2 separate regions of the Homo sapiens genome follow, and region 2 is linked to region 1. Evidence: fine-mapped expression QTL. A gene starts in region 1. The other region holds a variant in brackets. All regions are shown on one strand. Distances are between the middles of the regions. Region 1 holds the start of CCNB1IP1 (cyclin B1 interacting protein 1). Region 2 overlaps TEP1 (telomerase associated protein 1).

Region 1 (5,382 bases):
TGTAAACACAGCTCACTACAACCTCTACCTTCTGGGCTCATGCTCTCTTCCCGACTCAGCCTACCTTAGTAGCTGGGACTATAGAGGCATCACCACTCTTGGCAATTTTTTATTTTTATTGTTTGTAGAGACAGTTGTTTTACCATGCTGCCCAGGCTGCCCTCAAACTCTTGGGCTCAAGCGCTCCTTCTGCCTCCACCTACCAAGTATTGGGACTACAGATGTGACCTACCACACCTGGCCCCAGGAATCTATCGACTTTTAAACAATTTCAAAGTTATTTTACAGAGCACAAAATTTTGATGTTACCAGCTGAAGAGAATTTCATCATGGATTATTATAAGTATTAAAGCCTGGAATACAGAATATCATAAAGAAATGTTAGATATTTAATGGGAATTTGAAAAGAATATTGTACTTTCTAAGGTTTTCTGAAATCACACAATATAGGAAGCAGTGCAATGTGGTGGTTGAGTTTGGGCTGTCAAGTTGGATGGCTGCTGTCTCAGTTTGTTTTCTGTTGCTTATAACAGAATACCTGAAACTGGGTCACTTATTTATTAGTTTGTTTTTTAATTAATTTATTTTTTGGATACAAAGTCTTGCTCTGTCTCCCAGGCTGGAGTATAGCGGTACTCCAAACCTACACCTCATTAGTTCAAGCGATTCTCCTGCCTCGGCCTCCCAAGTAGCTGGGATTACAGGTGTGCACCACCATGCCTGGCTAATTTTTTGTATTTTTAGTAGAGATGGGGTTTCGACATGTTGGCCAGGCTGGTCTCGAACTCCTGGCTTCAAGAGATCCACCTGCTTCGGCCTCCCAAAGTGCTAGGATTACAGGTCTAAGCCATCACACCAAGCCTGGTTTATTTATTTATTTAGTTAGTTTTTGAGACAGGGCCTCACTCTGTCACTCAGGCTGGACTGCAGTGGCACAATCTTGGTTCACTGCAACCTCCGCCTCCCGGGTTCAAGTGATCGATCCTCCCACCTCAGCTTCCTGAGTAGCTGGGACTACAAGCCCATACCACCATGCTCAGCTAATTTTTGTATTTTTAGTAGAGACGAGGTTTTGCCATGTTGGCTAGGCTGTGGGGTAATTTATTTTAAAAAAGAAATTTATTTTTTGCAGTTATGGATGCTGTGAAGTCCAAGGTTAAGGACTGCCTCTGGGTTGCATCTGAACTCCTTCTTGCTGGAGGGGACTCGCTGTGATGTTCCAAGGCGTGGCAGGAAATCACATGGCCAGGATGCTGAGACTGCTAACATGCTATCCTTAAGTCTCTTTGCCTTTTCTTTAAAGCCACTAGTTCCCCTCCCATGATAACCTATTAATCCATGAATAGATTAATTTATTTATGAGGGCAGAACCCTCATGATCCAGTCACCTCTTGAAGGCCCCACTTCTAATGAGGATTAAGTTTCAGCCACTTTAGGGATTAAGTTTCAACATGAATTTTGTAAAAGGTGAAAGATTTATGCGATATGAAGAGAAACTAGAGTGACAACATGAATTTTGAAGGGGACAGTCAAACCATAGCAACTGGGATCTGAATCCTGACTTTACCACTTGCTAAATAGACAAATTCCTTAATCTCTATAACTCTGTTTCCTTTTTTTTTTTTTTTTTTTTGGTGAAATAGTTATAATGAAAGTGCTTACATTCTTGGGTTAATGTGAAGATTAAACAAGGTAATGAATATTACATTTCTTGAATATTTATAGTAAACATTCAAGAAATGTTTTGACTCTAGAAGTTACAATAAATCAATTATGAAATAACAAATTAGCATTTGATGCTAAATGTTGGGAAATTTGGGGCAGGTAAACTCTAAAGTGGATTGGAATAGGTAATTTCTAGTAAGGTGGAAGCAGGGTGGATAGGATGAAATGATTAAAAAATGAGAACTACTATGAGTTAGAGTTGTATCATTTCTCCATATAACTTGAATCTTTATACTTCAAACATTTGCACATTACATGTATATTTGTACATATAACACATACTTGTATATATATTCCCTATTACTATAATAGTATTTATTAAGAATAATGATGAATATTGTGCCGGGGAGTCCTCTAATTATGGCTTAAAAAGAAATCTTTCAGCTTGGGCAACATGGCGAAACCCCATCTCTACAAAAAAATACAAAAATTAGCTGGGTGTGATGGTGCACGCCTGTAGTCCCAGCTACTTACTGAGGCAGGAGATCGCTTGAACCTGGGAGGTCAAGGCTACAGTGAGTCGAGATTTCACCACTGCACTCCAGCCTGGGACACGAAGTGAGACCCTGTTTCAAAAAAAAAAAAAATTTAACAGAGTAAGAACCTATACTTTAACTGGAGGGCGATGTGAGGAGTCAAAATAATTGATTAATCAATTATGTCCTCAGCATTGAAAGTCATTGTTTTTGTCTGGAGATGTGTAAAACGTACACTTTGATCTCCAGTTGTTTATAGTCTACTTGGGAATATAAATCTAACAAGAAATATGTAATAACAATAATAACAGCTAACATTGTTGAGTACTGTGTACCGGGCATTGTACTGAGTACATTATATAAATTATTTTACTTAATCCTCATAACCATCAGAGTAGGAAGATTTCATCTTTTTTCCCTCTTTTTATAGTTGGAACTGAGGCTTAGATGTGTGCAAATAAGTGGCAAGGTTCAGATTCAAAATCAGCTAAATTTTATTTGAAGCCTAAAACACTTAACCCACCTACCTTTTATCTACTAAGCCTGTTAGTTCAAAGATTACCTGAAGGTAAATTTTATCAGGCCAGCTTTGGATCTGGGGGGAAAAAATGAAGGTAAATTTTAACTTGAATCGATCTAGACTGTTTATAATGGAATCTGTTGCCTAGCATAAGTTAAGCATGTTGAGGTCACAAAGGATAAGAAATTACCCTTAAGGGATGAAAATTCTTTAGAATAGAATGCAGTAGGCCCACGCAAACAACAACGTGTATAAATAGCTTAAATTAGCCTGTTTTTGCCTAAGTACATTAACTCAAAAGGAAACTCGGTTTAAGAAGTTCACTCCAAAAATAGTGCAAGAAGCATCACTGGTCCATAAAGAGGGGTGGAGTGGGTTACGTCATTTCAGCACCTTTTAAGGTAAAGGAGGAGGGAATCCTCTTGAACTCATTAGCCAATCAGGTTCTGAAGACACTTCCCAAGGCGACTTCCTGTCTCTCCACTTTCTTTCCCTCTCCGTTTTGGTGGGCTGGTGAGTGTGCGCTTAATTTTGCTCTCTAATTGTTTTGAATTTCTCTTCCATTTGAGTTATATACCCAGGTGGCAGGCCTTTATTTCAAGTCGGCATAGGAGTGTGTGTGAGTCGCAAGGAGATTAATTTCGGCTGTGTGGAGGTTGGGAGAAGGCAGTGAAATGCTCTTCCTGGCTTGTTTCCACGTGGGCCTCTGCAGTACTGGGTTTGCCTTCCGTCTCCGAGTCCTGGTGACCCAGGAACAATAGACTGTGCTTCATGTGCACAGTGCGTGTGTTCTTGGAAAACGCCGGCTTCATTTTGCTTGGCGGGAAAGATATTATCATCCTAATGCTGTTTTGATTTATATCTCCCTGGGTGAGGTCAGATTTCGGGAGAAGGCGTTCAGCTCAGTAGAGTTTAATTCTCCGGTGAGTGTCTAGAGGGCCCAGGTCCTTACTGGGTTTGTGGAAGCTGCAGCGTACCTTGTCTTTCTCCTGGCCTTCGCTCAGATCATTTCGGCTTTCTTGGTGAACCTGGGCAGCAAACTCTGAAGACAGATAAGCCTTAAAAGGAGCTCCTAATTTTTAATGTTGCCACTGTGGTGATTGTGTCCTTAAAAGCTATGGAAAAAGATTAGGGACCTTAGTTCAGGGCAAGCCTCTAGATTTAAATTCCAGCGCCACAGTTTACAGCTCTGGTGACCTTGGGAGAAGCAGTGAGCCATTCCGAGGCTTAGCTTTCCAAGATCAGATAAAATATATAAAAACTAGGCTCTAGTTGGTGTGTAATAAATGTTAGGTACCTTTAGAAGTAAGCAGTACTTATTTATTTACAGCAAGTATTTTGGATATCTGTTTTCTCATAAAAAGTTTGCTTAGTGACCTTCAATGTCATTTCACTGAATTCCTTTCTTTTGGTACATGTTAATTTTAATGTGATGTTTGTGTTGGATATTCTTATAGGCAGAAAGTGTGAGAAAGACAAATAATAAACCAGTTAATCGAATGTAGTAATAGGTATTTGTAGGCCTCCCATAATTTTTATAATTCTCAAGCATTGTTAAAATTTATTTTTTGGGGCATGGCGGCGCATGCCTGTAATCCCAGCTACTCGGGAGGCTGAGGCAGGAGAATCGCTTGAACCCGGGAGGTGGAGGTTGCGGTGAGCCGAGATCGCGCCATTGCACTCCAGCCTGGGCAACAAGAGCGAAACTCTGTCTCAAAAAAAAAAAAAAAAAAAAAAAAATATATATATATATATATATATGTATACACATCATATATATATATATTTTTGAATAGGTAATACATTCACATGGTTCAAAATTCAAAAGATATCAAAGTTTCTTATCCCCTTCCCTAAGCCATCCAATTCCTCTCCCTCATAACAGTGTTACTAAGATATTTTATGCATATAAGCAAATATGTGTAGGTATCCTTCCCTTTTACTATACCTACTCTACTATGTGTCTTACTTTTTCCACTTAAGTTCCATGAGTAGAGTGTTCACATTCTTCATAATGGTAACATAGTATTCTTTAAAAATTATTTTTTTTAAAAAATATATTTTTTCAGTAGGTTTTCAGGGTATAATGGTAACTCAGTATTCTAATTTATGTACCTACTATAATTTATTTAGCTTTTATCAGTAGGTATTCAGATAGTTTATGATCTTGATATTTCCCCCTCAAATGAATAACCTTGTAAATCAGTCAGTTGGCATAAAGGCATTTCAATTGGGTTTTGGTATATTCTTGTTTAAAAGGACTCTAGATATTTTGCAGTGCTTCCTATTTATATTTATTTTGTACACGGTGGTGATTAGAAACCAATCAATACTCTAAACTTGATTGAGCAATAAAGGATTTTCTACCGAAAGGAAAATCATCTTGATGGCTTTTATGTGAATATATCTTTGCCCACTTTGGTTTGAGTGGGGATGGTTTATCTTGTTATGAGCATGTGTTTAATGCTGGGAAGGAGTGACAGCAGTGGCCCAGAACAACCAAGTCATCTTTGTATTCACAGGGGCAGAAAGGGCATGCTTTCAGTGTTTACTTAGAAAATGTGTGCTGGATATGCCCCTGAACTCATGGTGTTGAGGGCATATTTTAGTATTAAGTTAGGAAAAGCTGAAATGTATTTTAGGATGTAAACATGCAAAATA
Region 2 (5,382 bases), 33 kb before region 1:
AAGCAAACACTCCAGAAACCCAAACTCCAGGGACAGACCCATCTACCTGCAGGGAATCTGATGCCAGCATGGATAGTGATGCCAGCATGGATAGTGAGCCAACACCACATCTAAAGACACGGCAGCGTAGAAAGGTGAGTTTGAAGGAAGGGTCAGAAATACTAGGGGAGGGCTGGGAGCAGTGGCTCACACCTATAATCCCAGCACTTTGGGAGGCCTAGGCGGGCAGATAATGAGGTCAGGAGATCAAGACCATCCTGGCTAACACGGTGAAACCCCATCTCTACTAAAAAATACAAAAAATTAGCTGGGCGTGGTGGCGGGTGCCTGTAGTCCCAGCTACTCGGGAGTCTGAGGCAGGAGAATGGTGTGAACCCGGGAGGCAGAGCTTGCGGTGAGCCGAGATTGCGCCACTGCACTCCAGCCTGGGCGACAGAGCGAGACTCTTGTCTCAAAAAAAAAAAAAAGAAATACTAAGGGAGGAGGGCTGTAGGTCTGACACAGCACATTGTGATGCTTCTCTGAGGAGGGGCCCCTGAGAACTCACCATTCTGCTCTCCCCTTTCCTCTTTGAGATTCACTCGGGCTCTGTCACAGCCCTCCATGTGCTACCTGAGTTGCTGGTGACAGCTTCGAAGGACAGAGATGTTAAGCTATGGGAGAGACCCAGTATGCAGCTGGTAAGTGTGTGTGTGTGTGTGTGTGTGTGTGTGCGTGCGCCTGCACACCTATCCCAAAGGGATGTCACAAGACAGCAAACTTAGAGTAAGAAAGGGCAAAAGATCAAAATTCTGTTTTCTTCAATCACTTGCAATGTATGACTAACCTGTTTCTAAATAAAAGGCATTAATGTGAGAAAAAATAAGTTAGTAAGGAGGCTTGTAGCCCTGACCTCCCCTATTTTTGTTCCCATCGTAGCTGGGCCTGTTCCGATGCGAAGGGTCAGTGAGCTGCCTGGAACCTTGGCTGGGCGCTAACTCCACCCTGCAGCTTGCCGTGGGAGACGTGCAGGGCAATGTGTACTTTCTGAATTGGGAATGAAGATGTGCCACTCGGGAATAATGATACCCCTTGTGCTAGAGATGCAAAGCCTGAAGACACTGGTAGCTTTTAATAATTATAAAATTAATAATTTCTTGATAATTATAAAAATGAAGTGTCAAAAAATCTCAAGTGTAGGCCTGCCTGTGTTCTCATGTGGATTTAGAACAGGAGGATATTCTATGTGTATGTATATGTACATTCTAATGTGTGTCTCTTCTTATTCAACATTAATCCTTACTAGAACCACAAGAAAGTGAATGAAATCTTTAGTAGGTACTCTTTTGAAACTAGGTTTTAGAATTCTTGCATCACTCGCGGGCCCTAGGACCCTAGGATGCCATTCTTGCCAGGAGGAGGAATGAGAGTGATGTTGGCCAACATTCAATTTGAACAGAGCATGGAAGACCTTTCAGTTCATCGGGAAAGAATGAGGGAGGGAGAATAAGTCAGTCATGCATCAGGGCATTTAGAAAGAGCTATGTTTCTGTCACAGAGACAGCCCTTTTCTCAGAACTACCCAGAGGAGGCCGGGCATGGTGGCTCACGCTTGTAATCCCAGCACTTTGGGAGGCCGAGGTGGGCAGATCACGAGGTCAGGAGATCAAGACCATCCTGGCTAACATAGTGAAACCCTGTCTCTACTAAAAAATACAAAAAGTTAGCCAGGTGTGGCGGCGGGCACCTGTAGTCCCAGCTACTTGGGAGGCTGAGGCAGGAGAATGGCGTGAACCCAGGAGGCGGAGCTTGCAGTGAGCCGAGACACCACTGCACTCCAGCCTGGGCAACAGAGCGAGACTCTGTCTAAAAAAAAAAAAAAAGAACTACCCAGATGAGAGGTGAGGAGCCAAGCCATTGAAAGCGGAACAAACCTTCTGGTTTTCCCAACTTCTGACACGACTTTCAACTTTAGTCAATATGGTAATTGGCATTCTCAGAAGAGATCACGAAAGTGTCTTACTCTCTCTCAAATTGAAATTCACAAAGATTAAAACTAATTGAGAGGTGGCACAATCATAGCCATGAACTCTGATTTTCTTAAGTAAAAAACCTTTTTTTTTTTTTTTTGTTTTTGAGATAGAGTCTGGCTCTGTCACCTAGGCTGGAGTGCAATGGTGCAATCTCAGCTCAGTGCAACCTCTGCTTCCTGGGTTCAAGCGATTCTCCTGCCTTAGCCTCCCGAGTAGCTGGGATTACAGGTGCCCACCACCACGCCCAGCTAATTTTTGTATTTCAGTAGAGACGAAGTTTCACCATGTTGGCCAGGTGGGTCTCAAACTCCTGACCTCAGGTTATCTGCACACCTCAGCCTCTTAAAGTTCTGGGATTACAGGCGTGAGCCATTGTGCCCGGCCCATAAAAGAACTTTATTATATTTCTAAAATTCAATCATATGGAAGAATCTATTGAGCAGGTTAGCCTTTGCTTAACTTTCCTCCTCTGTTACTCCAGCCTTAGCTGGGGTGTTTTGTAGAATTTTCAGAGCATGGGAGACAGACAACTAGAGCTTCCTCCTGCCCTTGGCCCATGCTTTTAGGAGAGCAAAAGGCAAAAGATTGAAACCACTGACTTTAGTTTCCTCAGGCCCTTTCTTTCTGAGGGTTAAAGAAGAAGGAAATGTCTTCTGTGGCCAAGAATTCAAGGACTTGTAGGAGATAAGTGAAGGCTATTACAGGGATTTTGTCCTGGTTTGGTAGGTTTCTCTTGGAGAAATACCACTACACCCTGGTCTAGAAATGAGTTTTGAAGACTTGGGGAGTTAAAGGGCACTGAGTTTTACTCTCAC[T/C]GTACCCTGATTCCAGGTTTTACATGGAGAAATAACCTGAGGGACTTTATTTCTATCCAATGCCCTGGTTTCCATCCTGACCAGAGGATGATGACATCCGCTGATAGGCCATGCTTCTGTCTTCTCTTATGTGCCTCATGCCAAGCCTCGAAATATACCTTCTGGACCATCATTTCCACATCTACCTTGTGACTAGAAGTCCTAGTTATGGTATTTTGAAATTTATGATCCATAATCCTTGCCAGAAATCCTGCAGCGAACTATGGCATGGCATCATCCTAGTCATTGATTTCAATCTTTTGCCTTTTGCTCCCCTAAAATCTTGGGCCAATTGCAGGAGGAAGCTCTATTTGTCTCTCTTCCATGCTCTGAAAATTATATAAAAGCATCCCAGCTAAGGCTGGAGTGAAGGGGTTGGGGAAAGTTAAGCAAAGGCTAACTTGACCAATAGGCTCAATAGATTCAGTCTTGTTGGCCAGGCCCACTTGAAGGGTTTTTTGTTTCATCTTGGAGAAGGACAGTGAGGTCATGGTATAATTGTTATGAGTAAAGTCAAGAACAGCTTCTAGGTAAAAGTAATTATGTACCCAAAAGGAGTTGAAGGGAAAATCAATTTAGGTTTACATTAAACATCCTTCAAGTTCTTATCTTTAAATGGAGTTTCAGTGTCTCCCAAAGGCTGGATGAGTTTTACAGTTATAACCACTGGATTGTGAGACCATAGGACATTTGAACAATCTTTTCTTCTACCCATCTAGAAAAGCATCTTTTTTATATACCAAATTTTTACACATATATCCACATCTGTTTTTGAAATCTAGAGCAGAGGTACTCAAAGTTTGGTTCATGGACTAGTGCCAGTTCACAAATTGTTAATGTTTTATAATGAGATAAGTACGGAAGTTGAGAGTAACCATTTAGAAACTGTGTAGGAATTTAAAAAGTAATATCTGACAAATTTAATAATAAAAATGGAGGCTTGTATTTTGTGTGCTTTTTAATTTCATTTTCTTAATAATCCATTTTGATTATATTTTATAAAAGTATTATTCCGTGACAGATAAGAAATTAAAACAGGCCAGGCACGGTGGCTCACGCCTATAATCCCAGCACTTTGAAAGGCCAAGGCGGGTGGATCACCTGGGGTCTGGAGTTCGAGGCGAGCCTGGCCAATATGGTGAAACCCCGTCTCTACTAAAAATACAAAAAATTAGCTGGGCATGGTGGCAGGCACCTGTAATCCCAGCTACTTGGGGGGCTGAGGCAGGAGAATCGCTTGAACTCAGGGGGCAGAGGTTGCAGTGAGCCGAGATCGCATCATTGCACTCCAGGCTGGGCAACAAGAATGAAACTTGGTCAAAAAAAAAAAAAAAAGAAAAAAAAGAAAGCAAGAAAGAGAGAGGGAGGGCGGGAGGGAGGCAGGAAGGAAGAAAGAAAGACAAAGGAACAATTAGTCCTTCATCTCAGAAGGTTTGAGAAGCACTACTCTAGAGAGACTGGGTAACAGCAGCAAAAAGCATGGACTTGGAATAAGACTGCCTGAGTTCAAATCTTCATGCCTCCTTTCCCCCATTTGTACAACAGCCATAATAATGGTGCTTACTTCATGGGAGTGTTTTAAGGACTAAATGAGTTAAGGTGTAAAACACAGAACAGTGACACTTTTGTGGTAAGTATTCAATAAGTGCTAACTTGACTGTTCTTTTTGTTACCTAGCAGTACGAGTATCACCTCATTATTCTTTCTCATAAATGTCTTATTTATTAGTATATATTTAATCAATCAGAAAATCTGGACCGAATTTTTTAGTTTTCAAAAAAATGTGAAACTCGTATTCTTTCTAAGTTCAGGGGTACAAGTGCAGGTCTGTTACATAGGTAAACTTGTGTCATGGAGGTTTGTTGTACAGTTTATTTCATCACCCGGGTATTAAGCCTAGTACCCATTAGTTGTTTTTCTTGATCTTCTCCCTCCTCCCACCCTCCAAATACCTAATCTTCTCATCCAGAACGATGGGTATGTTTCTTTATCAGTTAAAATATTAAAGTTATGCTATCATAACAACCCCAAAATCTCAACAACTTAAAATAGCAAAGATTTATTTCTAAATCATGCCACATGGCCCGTTAAGGGTCAGCGAGAAGGCCCTGCTCTACTTTGCGCATATTTTGAGCTCTGTGCTTCACGTGGCGAGTAACTCTTCAATCTTCCACTTGGAAATAAAACACATCACTTCCACTCATATTTAATAAATACAAGCAAAGCAAGTCACGTGGCCATACCTAATGTCAAGGGATGGGGAGGAAGTATCCTACGATGTGTCTGAAAGAAGAACCAGGAGCCAATACACAGATGACATCCCCAAAGAACATATCTGTGTTGGTGCTTTCCCACTAGAATGGCTCTTAATCCTTCTTTTTTAATAATGTAAGATTTAGGCTGGGCGCAGTGGCTCAAGCCTGTAATCCCAGCACTTTGGGAGGCTGAGGAGAGCAGATCACCTGAGGTCAGGGGTTCAAGACCAGTCTGGCCAGCATGGTGAAACCCTGTCTCTA

What was found.
Region 2: its variant is fine-mapped to the expression of CCNB1IP1 in T cells (TOPMed, PIP 0.97).

The regions. Positions count from the first base shown.
Region 1 is chr14:20,331,106-20,336,487 of GRCh38, reverse strand. CCNB1IP1 (cyclin B1 interacting protein 1) reads left to right here and starts at 3,209. Exons shown (of 7, transcript NM_021178.5): 1 at 3,209-3,234. RefSeq lists an enhancer at 3,130-3,439.
Region 2 is chr14:20,364,096-20,369,477 of GRCh38, reverse strand. It overlaps TEP1 (telomerase associated protein 1), which reads left to right. Exons shown (of 55, transcript NM_007110.5): 53 at 1-134; 54 at 576-680; 55 at 919-3,811. The coding sequence ends at 1,041. Among named protein-coding and RNA genes, the nearest start is that of PARP2, 23 kb to the right of the region's middle. The variant T/C (reference allele first, on the strand shown) is at 2,828.